Regions from separate parts of the Homo sapiens genome. Here regions 1, 2, 3 and 5 are each reported to be linked to region 4. The links are microRNA targets in miRTarBase. Many come from high-throughput screens and were not tested one by one. Region 4 holds a microRNA gene; each other region holds the end of a gene's coding sequence.

Region 1 (4,095 bases), not on the chromosome of region 4:
GCACCCGGCCCGAGTCCCCCTCCCTTTGGGGAGAATTATGAATTGCAATTGCAGATGGCTCCACTGATTGAAGGCAGTGCTCAGCAGGGAGAAGGGTCAGATCAGATTATACACCATTAATTAAAAACTTCCCTGACAAACAGGAGGAAGGGAATGCACACCAAGGGCTGGCCTGGTTGGGTCTCTGTCCTCCCCATGTCCCCTGCCCCCACCCAGGCCCAGGGGCTATGCCAATGAAGCCTGCTTCCCCCAGCTGGAGCTACTGAGATTCAGCTCTCCAAAGGCCAGCCCTTCCCTCATCCAAACAGATGGCCTGCTGTCCTATTAAAGGGCTCCAGAGGAGGGGAAGCGAACCTTTGGTTACTTATTTCCACGTCTAACCTTGGATGCTCTTCAGAGGCTAACCTAATTCCCCACTTCTCAGGAAACTTATTTCCTCCTGCTCTGTCCTGACAGAACTGCTTTGAAGAACTGTTAGTGAAAATAGCCCCTCAGCTTTCTCTTCAGGCAACCCCTCATATTTTGGCCTGTATGTTCCTGGGACAGACATTGTGAAGCCTGCTCTGAAATTGTGGGTGGAACAGCAAATATCTGGCGATGCACCCTCTCCCCAGCCCCTGCCTGGAAGCATAGGCTTCTCAGCTGCTGTCATACTGGCTTATTTGGAGCTGTAACTCCTGAAATTTTCTCCTCTTGATCTATTACTGCCTCCCATCCTCCCCAACTGCCCAGCCTTATTCATTCATCAAACTTATATTGAGCACCCAGTGTGTGCTTGGCTCTGGGGACAAAAAGCAGTGATCATTTGTCAAGGAGCTTAAGAGCCTACCATAGGAGCTCCACGCCCCCATCCCCTTCAATCCTCTAGTTCCTGTTTCCTTCCTTCCTGGGGCTGCAGCTTGTATGAACCCCCCAGGAGCTCTATTTTGGAAAATTCTCAACTGGGAGCTGGGGAGACCTTAAGTGTTCGTGCTCCTGAACCAGGTGACCTTGAGCAAGTCAATCATGTCCTCTGTTTACACATACGCTCTCATACATGCATACATACAGACACCCAGCTCTCCCTGCTCATAAAAGGACACAGGCAGCCTTGGACTCTGAGAGATTGTGAAGATGGATGAGTGGGGCCCAGCTTGGAGAGATGTGAGTAGTATCTGCGCTGATATTACAGAACGCTGAGCACAGCTACTGGGGCTATGAGCACCAGGGATTCAGCTACTGCACTGGTCACAGGCTGGGCCTGCCACACTGCCCTTGGAAGACTTGGGCAGCCTTTCCCCCATCCCCAGTCCCTCAGGAGACATCACTAAAAAGGATCTATCTTTTGTTTGTATTTTAATTTAATTAATTTTTCATTTTAAATAATAGAGATGAAGTTTCACTATGCTGCCCAGGATGGTCTCAAACTCCTGGCCTCAAGCAATCCTCCTGCTTGGGCCACCCAACATGTTGGTGATTACAGGTTTGAGCCGTCATGCCTGGCTAAGTTTTTAATTTTTTGTAGAGGCAGGGTTTTGCCATGTTGTCCAGGCTGGTCTCGAACTCCTGGCCTCAAGCGATCCTCCCACTTTGGCCTCCCAAAGTGTTAGGATTACAGGTGGGAGCCACTGCACCAGGCCAGGACCCATCTTTTGTTTTGTTTTTTTTGTTTTTTTTTTTGAGACAGAGTCTTGCTCTGTCACCAGGCTGGAGTGCAGTGGCGTGATCTTGGCTCACTGAAACCTCTACCTTCCGGGTTCAAGTGATTCCCCTGCCTCAGCCTCCCAAGTAGCTGGGACTACAATCACGCGCCACCACGCCCGGCTAATTTTTTATATTTTAGTAGGGACAGGGTTTCACCATGTTGGCCAGGATGGTCTCGATCTCCTGACCTCGTGATCTGCCCGCCTCAGCCTCCCAAAGTGCTGGGATTACAGGCGTGAGCCACCGTGCCTGGCCGCCAGGACCCATCTTTTATATGAATTTGGCTGCTGCATCTTAGGGTACCATGGTGATGGGCGTCATAGAGATGAGAAGAACTGATTTTATTGGTTCGCCTCTTCATTCCAGGGCCCTCCCACAGCCCCTCACACCCACAAAGCCTCAAGGTCAGCAGACCCAGGAGAAGAGCACACAGGGTCCCTGGTTAAGTAGATCCAATGATGTGAGAGAAAACCCAGTCTCTCTTCCCTCCCTCTCAATCATCTTTCTCTCTCTCTTTTCCCCTCCTCCCTCTCATTACCAACAGCAATTGTCTTCATACCCAATAATTACAGTAACAGCAACAATAATCATCATTTATTGGGGTTGTTTTTCTAGCATTTTAACTTCTGAAAGTATTTTCCGATTTCTTGATTTCACAGCAGTCCCTGGAGGAGGATTGTGTGTCCATTTTACAGCTGGAGAAGCCGAGATCCAGAAAGGACCCCCAAGTTGTGGGCAGAATAAATCTACAGCAGCTTTTAACTATTAAACCAACTTAGATTTTGGTAGTCTTTCAGAGGCACTGAATCTCAAATCTTAGTTTCCTGGGTCCCTCCTGGGTTCCTACCACCCTTAGGGCTTATTCAACAGCTTTCTGGGGATCCTGTAATGCTGACAGAGAGCCTGGAGACGGCTTCTTTGACCCAGGTCATGAGTCAATGGCTAGATGGGCACTTCCCCTCTGAGGATTGTTCCTGCCTGAGAGTGGGCTGTGGGGTGGGAGCTGGGGCAAGCACCTGGGAGGAGGCTTCCCTGGGAAAGGCCTGTCTGGCTCAAACCTCCCTTCCTCTATCCCACCTCTCTACGAGCCTGAGAAAATGTTCTTCTCTGTGTCAGTTCTTCTCAAGGGTGGGGGCCTCTCCAGAGCATTTGGAGGATTGAGGAATAAAGACCTATTGGGAGAGGCCGGGCACGGTGGCTCACGCCTGTAATCCCAGCACTTTGGGAGGCCGAGGTGGGCAGATCGCCTCAGGTCAGGAGTTTGAGACCACCCTGACCAATATGATGAAACCCCATCTCTACTAAAAATACAAAAAATTAGCTGGGCGTGGTGGCAGGCGCCTGTAATCCCAGCTACTTGGGAGGCTGAGGCAGGAGAATCCCTTGAACCCAGGAGGTAGAGGTTGCAGTGAGCCGAGATCATGCCACTGCACTCCAGCCTGGGTAACAGATCAAGATTCTGTCTCAAAACAAACAAAGATCTATTGGTAGAGCAGTCTCTGTCCTCAGGAAGCCCCCAGTCTGAAGGAGGAAATATAGCCCCCAAAACCACACCCAAGGTCAGAGAAACACCCCCAGGAGCTCAGAGGCTGTCCCAGGGCCTGATTCCTCCAGAAAGCCTGTCCTCTCTGGACCAAGGGTTTCCTGGGTGGGTAAGAAGCTGGGGCTCCCTGAGGTCCCTATAGCTCCCATGTCTAAGCAGAGTGGCTGTCTGGGCTCCCATTCCTTTCTCCCCCAAGACTTGGGCATCTGGGGTCAGGACTCCTACGGGGTCCAGTGGGTGAGAGGATGGGAGGGCGATCCTAAATCCCCTGCCTTCCTCTGCTCTGTCCCACCGAGAGGTGGGGAAGCCCTACAGAGAGGGAATGGGACAAATTCACTCCCAGATTCTACCTAGAAACGTAATGCCAGGGATAGGGCTTGTCCCCTCCAGCCCACCTGGTCAGGACAAAAGGTCAAGCCTCCCCCTCCCGCCACCCCCAGGGAGAACCTCCAGGCAGGTCCTGCAAGGCAGGAAGCCCAAGGGCGCGGCCAGGCGTAGGCTGTTTCACACACTCTCCATCTCCACGGCTCCCGAACCCGGCTGGGATTCCTTCTTCAGGGGCTCCGCCCCTGCCCCTGCCCCTGTCCCCACCTCTACGGTGCCTGTGAGGATAGCCAGCCGCTGCGCCAGGGTCTTGGTGTCGGGGAACAGGACGAAGTTGTAGATCAGTGAGGCCAGGAGGGCTCCCATCAGGGGCCCCACCCAGAAGACCTGAGGAGAAGGATGTCGTCACCCCACCCAGGAGCTATCAGGACCACAGGGTGGCTCTGGGACCGCTGCCTGCTTCCCCAGTGCCGACTTGATCTCCCAGGTCTCCCTCAACTGTCTGTAAGGTGCTAAATTTGAGAACCACGAGTCGTGTTTCCCAA
Region 2 (4,151 bases), not on the chromosome of region 4:
TAGATTTCTAGTAACAGCCACAGAGCAGAAATGTGTCCCTTCCCAATATGTCACATAATCCCCAAGAGCCTCAGGCCAGAAGTCCACAACATGTAACTAGTTCAAAGGATAAAATTTTTCTCTGCATTAATTCTAACATGAGGAATACTGAAAACTCTTTTAAACATCTGAAGAATTTCAGCAATTCACAATTCACCTTACTGGAGTGTTACACTGTCATCCAGATTTAGAAACAGGAGGATATAAAACTATTAAATGGAAAAGCCTAGAGAACTAAATTGCATTTTTTTTTTTTTTTCTGAGACAGAGTCTCCCTCTGCCCCCCAGGCTGGAGTGCAGTGGCTCGATTTCTGCTCACTGCAACCTCCTCCCGGGTTCAAGCGATTCTCCTGCCTTAGCTTCCTGAATAGCTGGGATTACAGGCACACACTACCATGCCTGGCTAATTTTTATACTTTTAGTAGAGAGGGGTTTTCACCATGTTGGCCAGCCTGGTCTCAAACTGCTGACCTCAGGCGATCCCCCTGCCTTGGCCTCCCAAAGTGCTGGGATTATAGGCGTGAGCCACCCCACCTGGCCCTAAATTGCATTTTTTTTTTTGTTTTTTTTTTTCAGATGGGATCACTGTTGCCCAGACTGGAGTGCAGTGGCACGATCATGGCTCACCGCAGCCTTGACCTCCCGGGCTCAAGTGATCTTTCCACCTCAGCCTCTCAAGTAGCTGGGACTATAGGCATGTGCCACCAGCTAAATTTTTTGTATTTTTTGCAGAGACAAGATTTCGCCATGTTGCCCAGGCTGGTCTCGAACTCCTGGGCTATAGGGATCCACCCACCTTGGCTTCCCAAAGTGCTAGGATTACAGGCGTGAGCCACCGTGCCCAGCCCACATGTATTTTTAAGAGTAAAAATAGCCAGGCACAGTGGAGTATACCTGTAGTACCAGCTACTTGGGAGGGTAAGGTAGGAGGATCACTTGAACCTGGGAGCTCAAGGTTGCTTTGAGCTGTGATGGCACCACTGCACTCCAGCCTTGGGGACAGAGCAAGACCCCATCACCTGTGCCCGGCCAGCTCACACCTGTAATCCCAGCACTTTGGGAGGCGAGACGGGTCACCTGCGGTCAGGAATTCAAGACCAGCCTGGTCAACATGGTGAAACCCTGTCTCTACTAAAAATACAAAAATTAGCTGGGCATGGTGGCGGGCGCCTATAATCCCAGCTACTCGGGAGTCTGAGGCAGGAGAATCTCTTGAACTCAGGAGGTGGAGGTTGCAGTGAGCCAAGATTGCACCACTGCACTCCAGCCTGGGCGACAGAGTGAGACTCCATCTCAAAAATAAATAAATGAATAAGATAAAATAAAAATACAAAAATTAGCCGGGTGTAGTGGTGGGTGTCTGTAATCCCAGCTACTCAGAAGTTGAGGCAGAACTGCTTGAACCCGGGAGGCAGAGGTTGCAGTGAGCCAAGATCATGCCACTGCACTCCAGCCTGGGCGACAGAGCAAGACTGTCTCAAAAAATAAAATAAATAAAAATTTTAAAAATACATAAATATATATATAAATAGGTACATATATGGTATAGGACATAAGAAATAACAAAAGGAGAAGAATTTAGTTCTGTAGGTCAGATAATTTAATAAATATTTCAAATAAATATATAATAAAAACTGAAATAAAATGTCAAGAATGGGGAACTAATGGTATTAAGTTTTATATAGAAGGGCATGAGGGAAGTGTATTAAAATTTGTTCAAATTTATGACTGAGAGGGCTAAGAAGGTACTTAATTTCCTCAGATGATACTTTGCGAACATGTGGTCTATTTGGTTGACCTTTGCAAATAGTTGAACAACCACACCGTGTATTCCCATACCCCCTAGACTGCCTGTCCAGGCCAAGCCTTAGTACCACGAGTCCACAGTGAAGTCCACTCCAGGTTATCTGCATAGGTAGCCCAGGCACCTTTCCTCTTTTCCTTTAGGTGCCTCCCCTCTACCCACAACCTCTTATTTCATCTCAAACACAGCTATTACAACATGTTTTATTTCACTGGAAAATTCTGTAAAGAACTAAATCTGGTTCCCTTGAAGAAAACATTTAGCACAGCTTAAATAAAAGTTGAGAAGGAGGGTAAGAGTGCATTGCCCCATTCTAGCTCTGTTGCTACCTTACCTCTGACTCTAAGGCCCTGTGGGATGAAAAGCAGGTATCCAAAAGAACTCTGCTTGGCCCTCTGATACGGCCTTGAGGTCAGCCCTGGTGCCTGCTTTCTGGCCCACAGACCGCTGAAATCCTAGGAGCTGCCATGGGAGTTACCAAAAATATGTGAATAAACTGAATGCAGAGGCTGAGGCAGGTGGATCAACTGAGGTCAGGAGTCTAAGACCAGCCTGGCCAACATGGTAAAACCCCATCTCTACTAAAAATACAAAAATTAGCTGAGCGTGGTGGCGGGCACCTGTAATCCCAGCTACTCAGGAGACTGAGGCAGGAGAATCATTTGAACCCGGGAGGCAGATGTTGCCAGTGAGCTGAGATCACGCCATTGCACTCCAGCCTGGGCGACAAGAGCAAAACTCAAAAAAAAAAAAAAAAAAAAAAAAGGAAAAACAAAACCCAGAATGCAGAAACTGCATTGGTATTTTGAGCTAGTTACAGGCAGTAACACTTCTACTAGGAAGGAAAATATATAATTTATCCAAAAATAGTTCTAAGATTTAGAAAAACATCTCAATCCTCTAGGGCCAAGACCTGCCCCTTATTTACATTCACAAAGCCATTAAGTGAACCCAGAACTGACCAGCAGACAGTGAGGCAGGGCCTGCTCTGTGGCACATGCCAGTCACCTACTGCGTAAGTGGACAAAGAGAAAGCAGAAGGTAATGGAGAGAGTTTTCATTTGCTTATTTAGTGAAAAACAGAGGAAAATCACTCGAGGCAAAAGAAGCAGGACTGAGTCCTGGGTTAGTTCTGATTCCTCACAAGCCCTAAGACAAGATTTTGAAAGATTGGACTAATGTCATGTGTCCTTAAGAACCAGGGTCAGCAAGTGGCTGATCTGAATGGTTTGTGGCCATGGAACCAATGTGACTTATTCTTTTTCATTTTTTTCCCTAAAAATCCAGGTGGATAAAGGACTGTGTGGGGAAAGTACCAAATAAATGAGGTAAAAAGGAAGGGTCATACAAAGAGGGCACTACACCAGCTTCTTGGCCTCAAAGAAGCTCTTGAGGTGACGCATCTGCCAGATGCCAGTGAGGATGAGGATGACAGTCTGAGCAATGGACCACCATAGGACCCTCTGGTTGGTGCTCTCGCTCGTCAGTCGGAAGCGCTCTTCACGATACTGTGTGGGGCAACACAGGGTTAAGTGAGCAGGAGAAACAGTCTGGCTGTTGTGAGGTCCCTCCCTGCGTGTAATTACTCAACTCCAGGACCAAACTCCTTTTGGAATACTATCTGTGACTCCATTAGGAGTGCTATGGTCTCCCCACTGAGGCTGCCCCAAGAAAGGGACAGGCTGTCCCTCCACAAGCATCTCTGTTAGGACTGAAATCATGATCCTACCATTTCCAACAAGAGTCCAAGAAAAACAGGTAGGCAATGGCTATTACTAGATTGTGAACTGTCCTTTCTTCATTTTATTTTATAGAGCTTAAAAATGACTACTGAAAGCGAAATGTGGCACATGCATACAATGGAATATTAGCCTTAAGAAATTCTGACACATGCTATAACATGGATGAACTGTGAGAACATTATACTCAGTGAAATAAGCCAGTCACAAAAGGACAAATACTGAATGATTCCACTTATATGAGATAGGGTAGTCAGGATCATAGAGACAGAAAGTAGAATGGTGGGTGTCAGGACAAAAGGAAACGGGAAGTTATTGTTTATAATAAGTACAGATTTGCTGGGTGCAGTGGCTCACGCCTGTAATCCCAACACTTTGGGAGGCTGCGGCAGTGGATTGCCTGAGGCCAGGAGTTCAAGACCAGCCTGGCCAACATGGTGAAACCCAGTCTCTACTAAAAACACAAAAATGAGCCACGCATGGTGGCACTTGCCTGTAATCCCAGCTACTTGGGAGGCTGAGGCAGGAGAATCGCTTGAACCTGGGAGGCGGAGGGTGCAGTGAGCCGA
Region 3 (4,151 bases), not on the chromosome of region 4:
AAAGTTCTCATTGGTAATTTACAGCTTTGGAATTTCTACTCTGTAGAGTAACTGGAGTAGCGAGTGAAGGGAGCGCTCATAATGAGCATGGCCTCAAGTGTCCTAAACCAGGGACATGGGCCTTCTCCTAGCGACATATACACCACTGGTACAGACATAGGAGAGTGATGTTAAAAAGATGGAAATCCCATAGGTACCCGTGTCTCACAGTGTCTTGGAGGCATTCTCCTCTGTTTGGATAAATAGGCCCAGAGAAACCTACAAATGCTTTAGGGTGCTTACGTGCAAATGGTTAGGGTGCGGTGGCCAGGTCTCTTGACGGTCTTCTCTCCTGCCCCAATCAGAGCTTCCATACAATGACTACTTTGAATACTTTGGACCAGATTTCAAGCTCCACATCAGTCCTTCCAATATGACTAACCAGAACACGAATGAGTACCTGGAGAAGATCAAGTGAGTATATCCTCCAGCCACCCCTTGGTTGAACATTCCTGACTTTGGTTTGTCCCTGACCAGAGCCCTGCTACTCTCTCCCATTGGCCACAGACAGCGACTGTTTGAGAACCTTAGAATGCTGCCGCACGCACCTGGGGTCCAAATGCAGGCGATTCCTGAGGACGCCATCCCTGAGGAGAGTGGCGATGAGGACGAAGACGACCCTGACAAGCGCATCTCGAGTGAGACCCAGACCTAGAGCCCTATGCCTTCCATTCAATAGGCAGCTCACACTTCCACCACCATTCCTGGCTGCACACTCCCTCCAAGCTCCCCACCTGTAGAGAAATCTGTTTTCGAGTTCCAGTGCCTGTAGGAACAGGTTAGGGAGCCCGAGTTCCTCCCTCTTCTGGTTCCCTTTCCCTTGGTGTCTCTTGGAGGACACGCAGGGAAGCACTGGGCATAGATGCTGAGCTAAATCAGCACCCGCCTGCCCTCTCACCCATGCTTCCCACTCCCTCCCAGTCTGCTCCTCTGACAAACGAATTGCCTGTGAGGAAGAGTTCTCCGATTCTGAAGAGGAGGGAGAGGGGGGCCGCAAGAACTCTTCCAACTTCAAAAAAGCCAAGAGAGTCAAAACAGAGGATGAAAAAGAGAAAGACCCAGAGGAGAAGAAAGGTGGGTTTGGGTTCAGCTGGGACTTGGGTCTCGAGCCTGAGAGGATGAATCTATGTAGGGCAGTGGGAGGAGGGAGTGACTCAGGCCCTGCCAGCTCCTGTGGGGCTCTTCCTCAGTTCCTTGAGCCTTTCAGTGGCTCCCAGAAGTGGCAGAGCCCACAAAACAATGAACCTCTACTGCCTGAGCACGGCTCTCACATACCACCCCAGCCCTTTTCCCAGCACTGCACCCCAGTTTCCCAGGGGGCTGCCTCCGCCCACCAGGTTCTGGCTGTAGCAGGCTGGGAAACCAGTCCAACCTGTTCTCAACAGGGCTCACTGGGAGGACCAGGGATGGGCTTTTCTCTCTTTATGTCCAGTGAGCTGTAGTGTTGGGGAAGGGGTCTCAGGGTAAATGAAGACCTCATGGGTCTTCCCAGAGGTGCTGCCCTTGGCCATCCCTGTACTCTTGTGTTCTAGAAGTCACCGAAGAGGAGAAAACCAAGGAGGAGAAGCCAGAAGCCAAAGGGTGAGGAAGGAGCTGCCTGTGGCCATCTCCCTGGCATTGGAGCACCAGCCCCTTTGTCCCACCACTCTGAGGAAAGGCACAGGGACAGCTGGTCCAGCTTACAAAGGCCTCTTTCAGGGACCAGTCTGTCCAGCTCTGCAGTTCTAGGCAGAGCTAGGAGCCCCAGCCCCCAGTAGTCACCTAGGATCCTGTGGAAGTCACTGTCTGCACTTTTGCCCTGAGGCTCTGGGCTGGGTCATCTCATGCCAGTCTCTGCTCTCTCCACAGGGTCAAGGAGGAGGTCAAGTTGGCCTGAATGGACCTCTCCAGCTCTGGCTTCCTGCTGAGTCCCTCACGTTTCTTCCCCAACCCCTCAGATTTTATATTTTCTATTTCTCTGTGTATTTATATAAAAATTTATTAAATATAAATATCCCCAGGGACAGAAACCAAGGCCCCGAGCTCAGGGCAGCTGTGCTGGGTGAGCTCTTCCAGGAGCCACCTTGCCACCCATTCTTCCCGTTCTTAACTTTGAACCATAAAGGGTGCCAGGTCTGGGTGAAAGGGATACTTTTATGCAACCATAAGACAAACTCCTGAAATGCCAAGTGCCTGCTTAGTAGCTTTGGAAAGGTGCCCTTATTGAACATTCTAGAAGGGGTGGCTGGGTCTTCAAGGATCTCCTGTTTTTTTCAGGCTCCTAAAGTAACATCAGCCATTTTTAGATTGGTTCTGTTTTCGTACCTTCCCACTGGCCTCAAGTGAGCCAAGAAACACTGCCTGCCCTCTGTCTGTCTTCTCCTAATTCTGCAGGTGGAGGTTGCTAGTCTAGTTTCCTTTTTGAGATACTATTTTCATTTTTGTGAGCCTCTTTGTAATAAAATGGTACATTTCTATATCCTCCTGAGCTTGTTTCCTATGTGTCCCTGGGTTGGTTTCAACTCTACTTCCCTGCCGTTCTGGTGTCCATGAGTATTGGGGCAACCCCCTGAACAAGAAAACCCCATAAACTTACCTGCCTGCCTTAACTCCTCCCTTGAGGTTTGAGGTAAACTACTTTCCACCAATCTTCTCACCCTACCCCCAGAAGACCACTCATTAAAGCACCACTAAAGGGACGACATTTATTCCTTTTCCAAATGTTACAGTAAAACCAGGTGGAAGAGAATGGTTTTAGCAGTTAGAAAAAAAAAAAAAGTACAAATCTGGGGTTTGGCCATTAAAAGTTATTTACAACAGTGGGAGAAAAAAAGACAAGAAGTTGTTTCACATTACAGACCTCCCCCCACCCCAAAGCCTAATACTTGCTTACCAAGTCAAAAAAGAGACACAGTTGATTCACAGGCTGGAGGTTTGAACTTGAGTAAGACATTTATAAAAACCTAGACGGGGCAGTGTCCTCCCCAGCCCAGGTGCCACTAGGCACAGCACAAGAGACTAAAAACAACAGGGGAAGGCTGGACACTCAAGGTTTGGGAGTATAAGCACCCCACTTCTGGCTCAGGGATTTGGGGAGTAGGGTAAACAAAACCTACTTGGAAAAGAATTGGGGAAGAAAACCAACAACTGCCTTATGCAGGGGTGGGGACAGGGAAGGAGGTAGGGCCAGGGACAGGAGCATTTCACATCACTAACCTAACTTGGGAAGCTGTAAGGGACCATCTTCAACTGGCCTTAAGAGGAGAACCAGATGGCTGATGGGAGAATCCACAGGAGGGAGAGGAGGAAAGGGAACGTGGCTGGGAGGAGGCAATAGCCCCTTCCTTTCTGGGCACAGGAAGGCAGCCAGGGCACCAGGTCCAGGCAGTGACCTCACAAGGACAGCACAGTTTTTGCAGCTTAGAGATCACCCACCTGCCCCTACCTAGCTACTCATTCTGCTCAGCGCTGGCTGGTGTAGGGCCACTCTCCGGCCCCGAGGGAGTGGATGGCTCTGTAGCCTGGGGCCCTGCCTCTTCTTCTGAGGCTGCACTAGCCTCTGCCCCCTTGGCCTGGGGTTCCTGGCTCTCAGGGGTGGCTGCGGCCTTCCCTTCCTGAGCAGTGCCCTCGTCGCTGCAGGCACCGATCTCCCCCTGCTCCTGCTCTTCCTCTGTGGGTGAGGAGGCAGAAGAATCACCCCCACCCTCCTTCCGATTTCTCTTGAAGGACAGGCCGCTCAATTTGAAAGGCTTCTTGAAAGAGAATTTCTTCTTCTTCTTGGGGGTCTCCTTGGGGGGGACCTCCCCCTTGGCCTCAGCACCCTGGCTAGGGGGTGCTGGCTCGATGGCATCGCCAGTGGCCCCGGCTGCCTCATCTGTTCCGTTCACAGGGGGCGACTCCCCTTCACCCTTGGGGGATAAGTCTCCATTGCTTTTCACGTGGCCATTCTCCTGCAGGGCAGAGGGAATAGCAATGAGGGCAGGGGCTCCCCCTCCCCCAGCCCGCTTCTGATCCCTTCTAGAGGAAGGGGTCCTCGATTCGATTCTACTGCAACCCGAAAGTCTGGCTTCAGCCTCACCCACACCCAGGATCCCGTCAAACACCTCCCTCTCGCCCCTCACGGGCGCGCGGGG
Region 4 (4,151 bases):
GTTTCATATTCTTGAGTTTCCTAACTGGCCATTCGTCTCAGTCTTAGTTGCTACTTCCTCCTCCTCCCAATTTCTCAACCAAAATCCTCCTCCAGCATTCATTTCACCACTCCCTTCAGTATACAACAGAAATATAAACATGTAATGATTGGTGATAATCATGTTCTTGATTCATTTGTGTTTAAAACAACTGAAAAGGAAGAATAAGTTTTAAAACTTTTTATTCAGATTCAGAATATTTTATATTTCAACTAAATTTTAAACTTTCTAAATGAAAGTTTACAACTTGAAGTTCACACTGCTGTATTGCTTTAAAACTTAAAAGCAAATAAACTTTGTCAACTAAAATCAAAGTAACCAATATCTGGCCTGCCTGTCTCTAAGATGGCCATGCTGTCACCGCATTCATTATTCACAGTCAGTGACCCTTAGACCAATGCTTACACAAGATTTCTTTCAAATATGACACTGTGGAGATGGCCACAGGAGGTACTACAAAAACCAAGTGCTCGATTACCACTTAACATGTTCAGCTTGAAATGACTGCTACCTTTGCCTTCAATTCCTTCCCACACACCCAGGTATACAAATATCTTTTATACCAAGAGTCCTTGTGAAAGTAAATAGAGGGAACTCCCAGGGATAAGGGAGGGCAAAAAACAGGAAGCACTTGAAGCCAAAATCTGGAGCAACTTTTAAGAAGGAAGAGACGTCCGTCCTATTTTCATATCTCTGCATGGATCTCCCATGGAGAACTTGAGTTAAATGTAATGATTACACGTGGCAGAAAGACAACTCTCTAGCACAGTGTTTCTTTCACATAGGCTGCTACATTGATTCCATAAGCTCAACAATTTTAATAAAAAATATTTCTGCTAAATACTTTATATTCATCATCATAAAAAATGCACAGCCATTTGAAAAAAGGGCAATTACCCTAAATGAATATTGCCAAAGCACAGATCAACTTTATATAGGATTTCTTTCCTTGTTTCTGAAAAATCGCAAACAGAACTGGCAGACTTTATTTAACAAACATTGATTTTGTCCAGGCATGGAGTTTAAATTTTAGTGCATGTGCTGGAGGCAGGGAGAAGTGATGCGAGAAAGTAAAGCAACGACAGGTCATGCGGGGACCAGTGCTACAAAGAAACTAAAGCCAGGGGAAGGGTTGGGGAGGCATGGAGTGGGGTAGGACTACTAAATTTAGACAGAATGGGGTGCTAGAAAAGGTTGACTATGCTGTGGTAACAAATTAGCCCCTGAACCCCAGCGGTGTAGCATAAGTTTATCTCTTACCCACATTCTACGTCCACCACAGGTCACCAGTGGCTGTGCTCTAGTCATTCAGGGACACAGCTGGATGGAGGCTGCACCATCTGAGACACGGGGCACCTCCCTAGTCCTGCCAGAGCCGCAGTAGCAGTGGACCAGAGCTGGAAAGTCACACATGGAGCCTTAAAGTCTTTAAGCAATAAGCCACAACTAGTACCATGGCCCCACCTACTGCAAGAGGGCTGAGAAATGGGAGGAGTTCATAGCATGAGCAATCAATAACTGTCACTGATATCCAGGGAAGTCGTCTCTGACACAGGGAAATCTAAGCAAAGACCAACTAAAGAAAGAAGCTACACAGAAAGTTGGAGACAGGATGATGTCATTTATGATTCCAAGAAATATTCTGTTTGTCTGCCATTTGTTTCCAGTGAACAACCACATCAAATCTTTAATTTAGATATTTTGATAATTAAATGCATTAAAAATCTGTCTCTATTTCTATGCTTAGTTCAAGTAATAGCTTACCTCAGTGATTTTAACAGTCTTACATACCATATAGTATCACTGCCCTTACATTACATCCTTCAATAATTATCCCCTCCCGAGTAAAATCATAATACAAGGGCTGACAAACTCATTCTTGATTGACACACATCTCGACTCCTCACTCATTTCTTCTCCACATATTATTATTTTCTCATTACTTACCTAAAATTTAACCTTATAGATAATGAAAAGGGTTCTGAACATTAAGAAATAATAGAATAGTTATAAATGGAGGAAAAAGTTTGAATAAAAAAGTTTCTTAAAAGGATAGTGTCACTTGCAAAAATAGCTCTTTGAAATACAGGTTCCTATAAACATTTTACACGCATTAAGATATTACTCTTACACATACTGGTAACACAGACACTATACATATTTGTCTCCATTTTAGGAAGAAATGAAGCAAGGCTATTTTTAATAATAAACTTAGAAACAATTCATAACCCCTAGTATTTGCATTAACCTGCAAATACTAGGCAGCACACCACAGCAGAGTGTAACTAAAACCTAAAATAGTGTTTCACTTTCTTCCACACCTACCTCTGTGCGCTCATGCAAGTGTTTTTATTTTGCTTTGCATTAGATGCTTCTGTAATACAGGCATCTGATTCACCCCACATAAAGCTGTTGTAAGTAATCAATGTGAGAAAGTCTACTTATTGTTAAGCATATTTGTATATTTTTTACTAGTTATTTCATACTTGCCCTGAAAGAATACACATTCAAAAAGCTTGAAATTAGGCAATGTCAGTCTCATCAAACAAAACCAGCATTGGAAGCGAATATTAACAAATATCAGAATGAAATTACAAAATATACATCTCCAGCCTCATAAAACATGAATTTTATAAGCACTTTCATAAACATAAGAAAAATAGCTTTGACAATAACTATTTGAAAACATTATTATTAATAATCTTGTATACTGTACATGTGCACTTAAATGTAATAGCACCAACATTCATTATATTATGAAGGGGATACTTTATAAGAATTATAAATTATTTTTACATGATTAAATAATTTTGGCAGAGTAAGTCCGCAGGACTTAAATAACCAGTCAGCCTTAGTATCTACATCTGGACCAGGAAGCCTTTGTGTTACAGACACAGATTCCCTGTGAAGTTCTCCAGGGTGTAAAGAAGGCCCCAGGGAGGTGCCGACGGGATGTGAGGGCTGCCTTTCAGCTCAGGCGAGCCTGCAAGCAACAGGGCAGTTTGGGAAGGGTCACAGGCACAGGAAGGGAGCAGTGGGCAACCATTGATTACATCAAACCAGGATGGTTTCTTCTTTTTAAAGAAACTTTTGTTGAGTGTTTACCCACCCCCATCCACACAAATATGCTCTCTAGGAAATGTGAAAGTATAAGCTTCAGAAAAATGTTTTTCTCATCCTTTAATTTCTGGTTTTATGATCAAATGTTCCGAAGACACTGCTTCTTTTTGCTCAAAATAGTTGACATTGTCATTGCTTCTAGTTTTTCAGCTCCTACTATGCTTACTATGTCCATGGGTGCCATTGACGTCTTTGGCTATTTATCATCTCTAGAAAAGAAAAAAAAACATTAAAATTTTAGGATGTAGGATTCACAATAAATCTCTTACCAAATCCTCCTTAAATCCCTAAACTCTCTACCTGGCTCTGACTCCAGGATCACCCTTTCAGTTCTTTCCATGTTTTTCTTCGGAAAATGTAGTTTCCTAACCTTTCTACCCACCCTTCTCGTCTACTCTTAGGTCTGCAGCCACAGTGATAGTTCTAAGTTGCAAACCTGATCATGTCCTTCCAGTACTTAGTCTTTCAAAAATCTTCCTACTTCCCGCAGAGTGAAGCCTGAACTCTTTAATAGGCATCTAAGGACTTGGACCCGGATCCTGTTAACCTGTTAATTCATCTTTGCCTCTAACTCCCTCCCTTCATCTTTCAAGGCACAGCGCAGGACTTAACTCATTGTGAAAGTACTAAGCCTTGATGTATCTTTAGGAAAAACACACGTATACACACACACGCATGCAAAGAGAGGAAGCATAGCTTAGTGGTTAACCTACATAGACTGCAACTTGCTTAAATAATCCAGTATTTATCTATGTTTTAATAAAATTGTTTTAATAAAAATATATGAAATTCATCTATCTTTTCTCTGGAATGCTTTTGCCTGTTCAAAGATTATACAATGCTCCCGTATGTTACAGAGGAAGCCGTCCCTTCATTTATAAAAGACAGTTAACACATAGCACAAAAACTCTAGAGTAGGATGGATCCGCAACTACTGTACTGGAAATATGCTAAATTAGGGTTCTGATTAGAGTTAATGGAATTAACTTGGG
Region 5 (3,968 bases), not on the chromosome of region 4:
AACCAGTTAGCATTTCCTAGTATGTTTTTGTAAAATGTGAATAACTTACTCTTCTCTACTTCAGGAATATTTAGTTTCAGAAATCTAAACTCATTAGAAAAAACGTATGATGAAAGGATATATAAACTATCACATTTTTATGAGAAAAAATACTATATATAAATGTACAGTATTTTTGAAATAGTCATTTTAAAAGAGCTCTTTATATGGAATGTATCATGTGAAGTACACAATCATAGGAAAAGATGGACTGAGAATTAAAGACCTGGAACAAAGTACAAAGCATCAAAATGAAGATCTCCAGTAACTGGACAAACAGTGCCAATTATTTTTTTCCTAAACTGTGCTGGGCACACAATAAGCATCCAATTCCACTTATTATAAGATGATAGCTTTAAAGAGGTGTATGTGAAAAGAAGACAACTACTTTTTTAAGGATTATCATACAAAGAACAGAACTGAAGAGAAAAAAATTATAGATTTGAACTTAAGACTTAGCTTGAAAATTTTTGTTCTTTCCACATGTGCATTAATGTAATAGGCTGTTTGAACCTTTCGCATGGACCCCCCAATGCCTCTAGCATCATAATGAATTTTTATCTCTACATCCAAAGGATCTACCAACAATTTAAGGTATGGAGATAAAAGTCAGGGATCTCCAGGGATATACTGCCCTGCTTCTCTGATTATTTAGCTGGAAGAGAGGCAGTGGGAAGATGCTTGAATGGAAAATGAGCTAGAATCCTTCCTTCAATTTGATATGTTAATGCCATAAATCAGAGTTGCACAGGCACCTGCTTAGTGGATAGCTTACTGGAGCTTGTGTGACATCATATATATTTCCTTCTTTGCATATCTCTAAACAATTTTTTACTTTAATTATGTCAATAAACATCTTTGAAAGAAAGACTCAGATTTGTAGTTTTTCATTTTTGCTAGCAGTGAAGCCTAATGCTTCTTAGCAGCAATGAGCAACTTCATTTAAACTGATTACTCTGACTAAGGAAAGAAAAACAACAATAGTACTCTACTCAGTCTTCAGAGTCAAACCTCACAACAGTTGGAGCTAGTACACGGGTTAGGAATATGGGAGAAAGAAAAGACCTAATATGACAAATAAATCTGTAATTAACAGGGATCTGTTAGAATCAGAACAGTCCTGAGTATTACCTTACTAAAAAAGTTCAGATGCATAGGTTTTGAATGAAGTTTCTGATTATTCTGGTTCCAAATATGTTGAATTCAACAAATCACGTAAAAAGTTACTGTATTTTTAATGTTAAAAGGAAGTCTTCAAGTTTTTGGTACTGGTATGAGTTATCATTTGAATACTCTTCAGTGTTACTATATTTAGTCAGCTTTCCATATCCTCAGGCTCTGTATCCTTAGATTCAAACAACTTTGGATAGAAAATTTAAAAAACCAATAAATATCATAAAAAATAGTACAAATGAAAAAACAATATAACAACTACATAGCACAACGTAAGTGCTATGCAATCATATCTAATCATCTGGAGATTAAAGTATATGGGAGGATGTGCACAGGTTATATGCAAATACTGTGCTATTTTATATAAATAAGGGACTTGAGTATCTGTGGATTTTAATATTGGGGGATGGTGTTCTGGAACCAATCCACTGCAGATACCAAGGAAAGACTCTAACTAGAATTCATTTTATCATTTAAAAAAGTCAATACATATTATCTTGATACATAAAATCCTTGAGAGACCTGATATTCATAGATAAAGCTGCACAAGTATAATTGCTTTTATGAAAGTTCCTAGAAGCATCTTAGCCCAATATCAATCTATCAAGTATTAAATCACTTTACCAATTTCAATAAATGCCAAGACTGATATAATCTGGTCGTAAGTTGCTATCAAGTAAGTGGATAACTGAACACACAGGATAGCTCAGAAATTCACTATTGGGATAGGAAAACCACAGAAAAGCATGATAACTGGTTCATTCATTTATAAGGAGGAGAACCTTCATTAAATCTGCAAAGAATTTTCAGTTTTTAATCTAATCTGCCTTCCTAATCTTCCTGGTGATTGGAAACAGGTTAGGAATGGGAGGTAATGGAATAAACATGAGGATTTCTGTTTTTTAACCACTGTCATAAAAGCTTGGGAAAAAGATAAACCCCAAATCATCGAAGAACATTGTTTCCTTAAAGTGTTTTCAAAATAAATATGAGACCAATCTTCAGAACAATGCACAACTGTGGATAAGTTAAAACCTTTAGGAAGGGGGATAACTGGGATAACTCTTGAGTACTGTATAATCAAGAACCAGGAGAACTGACATGTTTCCAGTTTCCTGGCAAAAGAAAAAGTGTAGGAAGGTAGGGTTTGGCATTTTAACATTTTATCTAAAACTACGAAAATAGAAACAACAGTGCCAAACATATGACTGAAACAAACAAACAAAAAACCCAAATGTAAAACTCTAAAAATATGTGATCAATGTTTAATATTCTGAGGAATAAGTAACAAAATCAAGACAGATTTTTTACTTAGCTGGGTTAATTTCCTCTGAATTCTTCTAAGAGTTAAAAATGAACTATCACATTGATTGATTTAGAACCATCAGATTTTACTTCTGGAAAATCTATTACCTTTCAAAAAGTTATAATTTTAATGTTAGCACGAAAATTACTTCCTAACATTTCATTAAAATTTTGCAGCCAAAGATTCCTATTTTTGAATTACAGTACTGCAAGGCACATACAGAACTCACCTCCTTCAAAACCACAGAAGATATACTCCCTGAAATAGAATTTTAAAATCCTTGAACAATTAGAAATACTATAAAGTTAGCATTTTTTAGGTAAAAATGTTGCTCCTACAGGATCATGCAACTTTCTTAAAATCAATTCAGCACATATGTATAAAGAATCCTTTTTAAAAACATTTGTACTTGAAATACAGACACAGTGATGCTGAAGACACTAAACAAAAACTGAAAAGTACTATATCTTGATAAATTTTGTTATTGCCTTCTTTAGAGACTTTATAATCTCTAGTTGATTTTCAAGGACTTGAATTTAATAATGGGGTAATTACACAAGACGTAAAGGATTTTTTAAAAACAAGTATTTTTTTTTACCTCTAGCATCAATTCTTTTATAAAGAATGCTAAATAAATTACATTTTTTGTTCAGTAAAACTGAAGATAGACCATTTAAATGCTTCTACCAAATTTAACGCAGCTTAATTAGGGACCAGGTACATATTTTCTTCTGAACATTTTTGGTCAAGCATGTCTAACCATAAAAGCAAATGGAATTTTAAGAGGTAGATTTTTTTTTCCATGATGCATTTTGTTAATAAATGTGTCAAGAAAATAAAAACAAGCACTGAGTGTGTTCTCTTGAAGTATAAGGGTCTAATGAAAAATAAAAGATAGATATTTGTTATAGTCTGACATTTTAACAGTCATAGTATTAGACGTTTCGTGACCAGTGCATTTTGGACTCTCTCAGGATCAAAATACGAGTCTGCCAACTGTATTAAATCCTCCTCCACCCCCTCCACCAGTTGGTCCACAGCTTCCTGGTGGGTCGTTGTCATCAAATCCATTGGGCCGAAATGAACATGAAGCAGATGCAGCTTGGAGGGCCCGGGCTCGAGCATTCAACTCTTGTTCCTAAAATTAAAAATAACTTTTATGAAATTAAAATGCTAAATACAATGGATCGTTATATCACCTATAGAAATATTTTAAAACTACCTTAATCCTTATAAACATTCTTCAAATCTCAATAACTTTGAAACTAAAGCACCTAAGAAAAAAAAATTTCTCTAAGAAAATATTACAGTTCCTGCAACACTCTCTAAAACATACTGGAATAGATTCTTTTCTAATATATTTAACATAGAATTCAAAGATTATCACAATAGATTATCTATTCTCCAGCAATTGGGGCTATTTTGGAAGTGGGTGATTACAGTTAAATGT

Evidence for each region. Region 4 holds the annotated microRNA hsa-miR-4458 (AGAGGUAGGUGUGGAAGAA, at 2,350-2,368, opposite strand). A microRNA usually pairs through its seed, bases 2 to 8, with sites in the 3' UTR of a target mRNA and lowers its output. Matches are read on the target gene's strand: a 7mer-m8 pairs with bases 2 to 8, a 7mer-A1 pairs with bases 2 to 7 and ends in A, and an 8mer does both.
Region 1: miRTarBase lists AQP6 as a target of hsa-miR-4458. Seed matches in the 3' UTR shown: 7mer-m8 at 3,077-3,083.
Region 2: miRTarBase lists TMED4 as a target of hsa-miR-4458. Seed matches in the 3' UTR shown: 7mer-A1 at 3,168-3,174.
Region 3: miRTarBase lists MARCKSL1 as a target of hsa-miR-4458. Seed matches in the 3' UTR shown: 7mer-m8 at 3,196-3,202.
Region 5: the mRNA of USP38 is a reported target of hsa-miR-4458. Seed matches in the 3' UTR shown: 7mer-m8 at 3,302-3,308.

The regions. Positions count from the first base shown.
Region 1 is chr12:49,975,307-49,979,401 of GRCh38, reverse strand. AQP6 (aquaporin 6) reads right to left here. Exons shown (of 4, transcript NM_001652.4): 4 at 2,263-3,937. The coding sequence ends at 3,731. It overlaps LOC105369764 (a long non-coding RNA gene), which reads left to right and starts at 3,897. Exons shown (of 3, transcript XR_001749143.2): 1 at 3,897-4,095.
Region 2 is chr7:44,576,278-44,580,428 of GRCh38, forward strand. It overlaps TMED4 (transmembrane p24 trafficking protein 4), which reads right to left. Exons shown (of 5, transcript NM_182547.4): 5 at 1,617-3,351. The coding sequence ends at 3,202. Among named protein-coding and RNA genes, the nearest start is that of TMED4, 3.9 kb to the right of the region's middle.
Region 3 is chr1:32,331,130-32,335,280 of GRCh38, forward strand. MARCKSL1 (MARCKS like 1) reads right to left here. Exons shown (of 2, transcript NM_023009.7): 2 at 2,710-3,968. The coding sequence ends at 3,468. HDAC1 (histone deacetylase 1) reads left to right here. Exons shown (of 14, transcript NM_004964.3): 10 at 345-453; 11 at 547-677; 12 at 961-1,113; 13 at 1,572-1,620; 14 at 1,888-2,497. The coding sequence ends at 1,915. Among named protein-coding and RNA genes, the nearest start is that of MARCKSL1, 3.0 kb to the right of the region's middle. RefSeq lists a silencer at 3,926-4,151.
Region 4 is chr5:8,459,150-8,463,300 of GRCh38, reverse strand. It overlaps MIR4458 (microRNA 4458), which reads right to left and starts at 2,376; the gene lies at 2,302-2,376. MIR4458HG (MIR4458 host gene) reads right to left here. Exons shown (of 2, transcript NR_039989.1): 2 at 205-3,368.
Region 5 is chr4:143,219,983-143,223,950 of GRCh38, reverse strand. USP38 (ubiquitin specific peptidase 38) reads right to left here. Exons shown (of 10, transcript NM_032557.6): 10 at 77-3,656. The coding sequence ends at 3,495. Among named protein-coding and RNA genes, the nearest start is that of USP38, 37 kb to the right of the region's middle.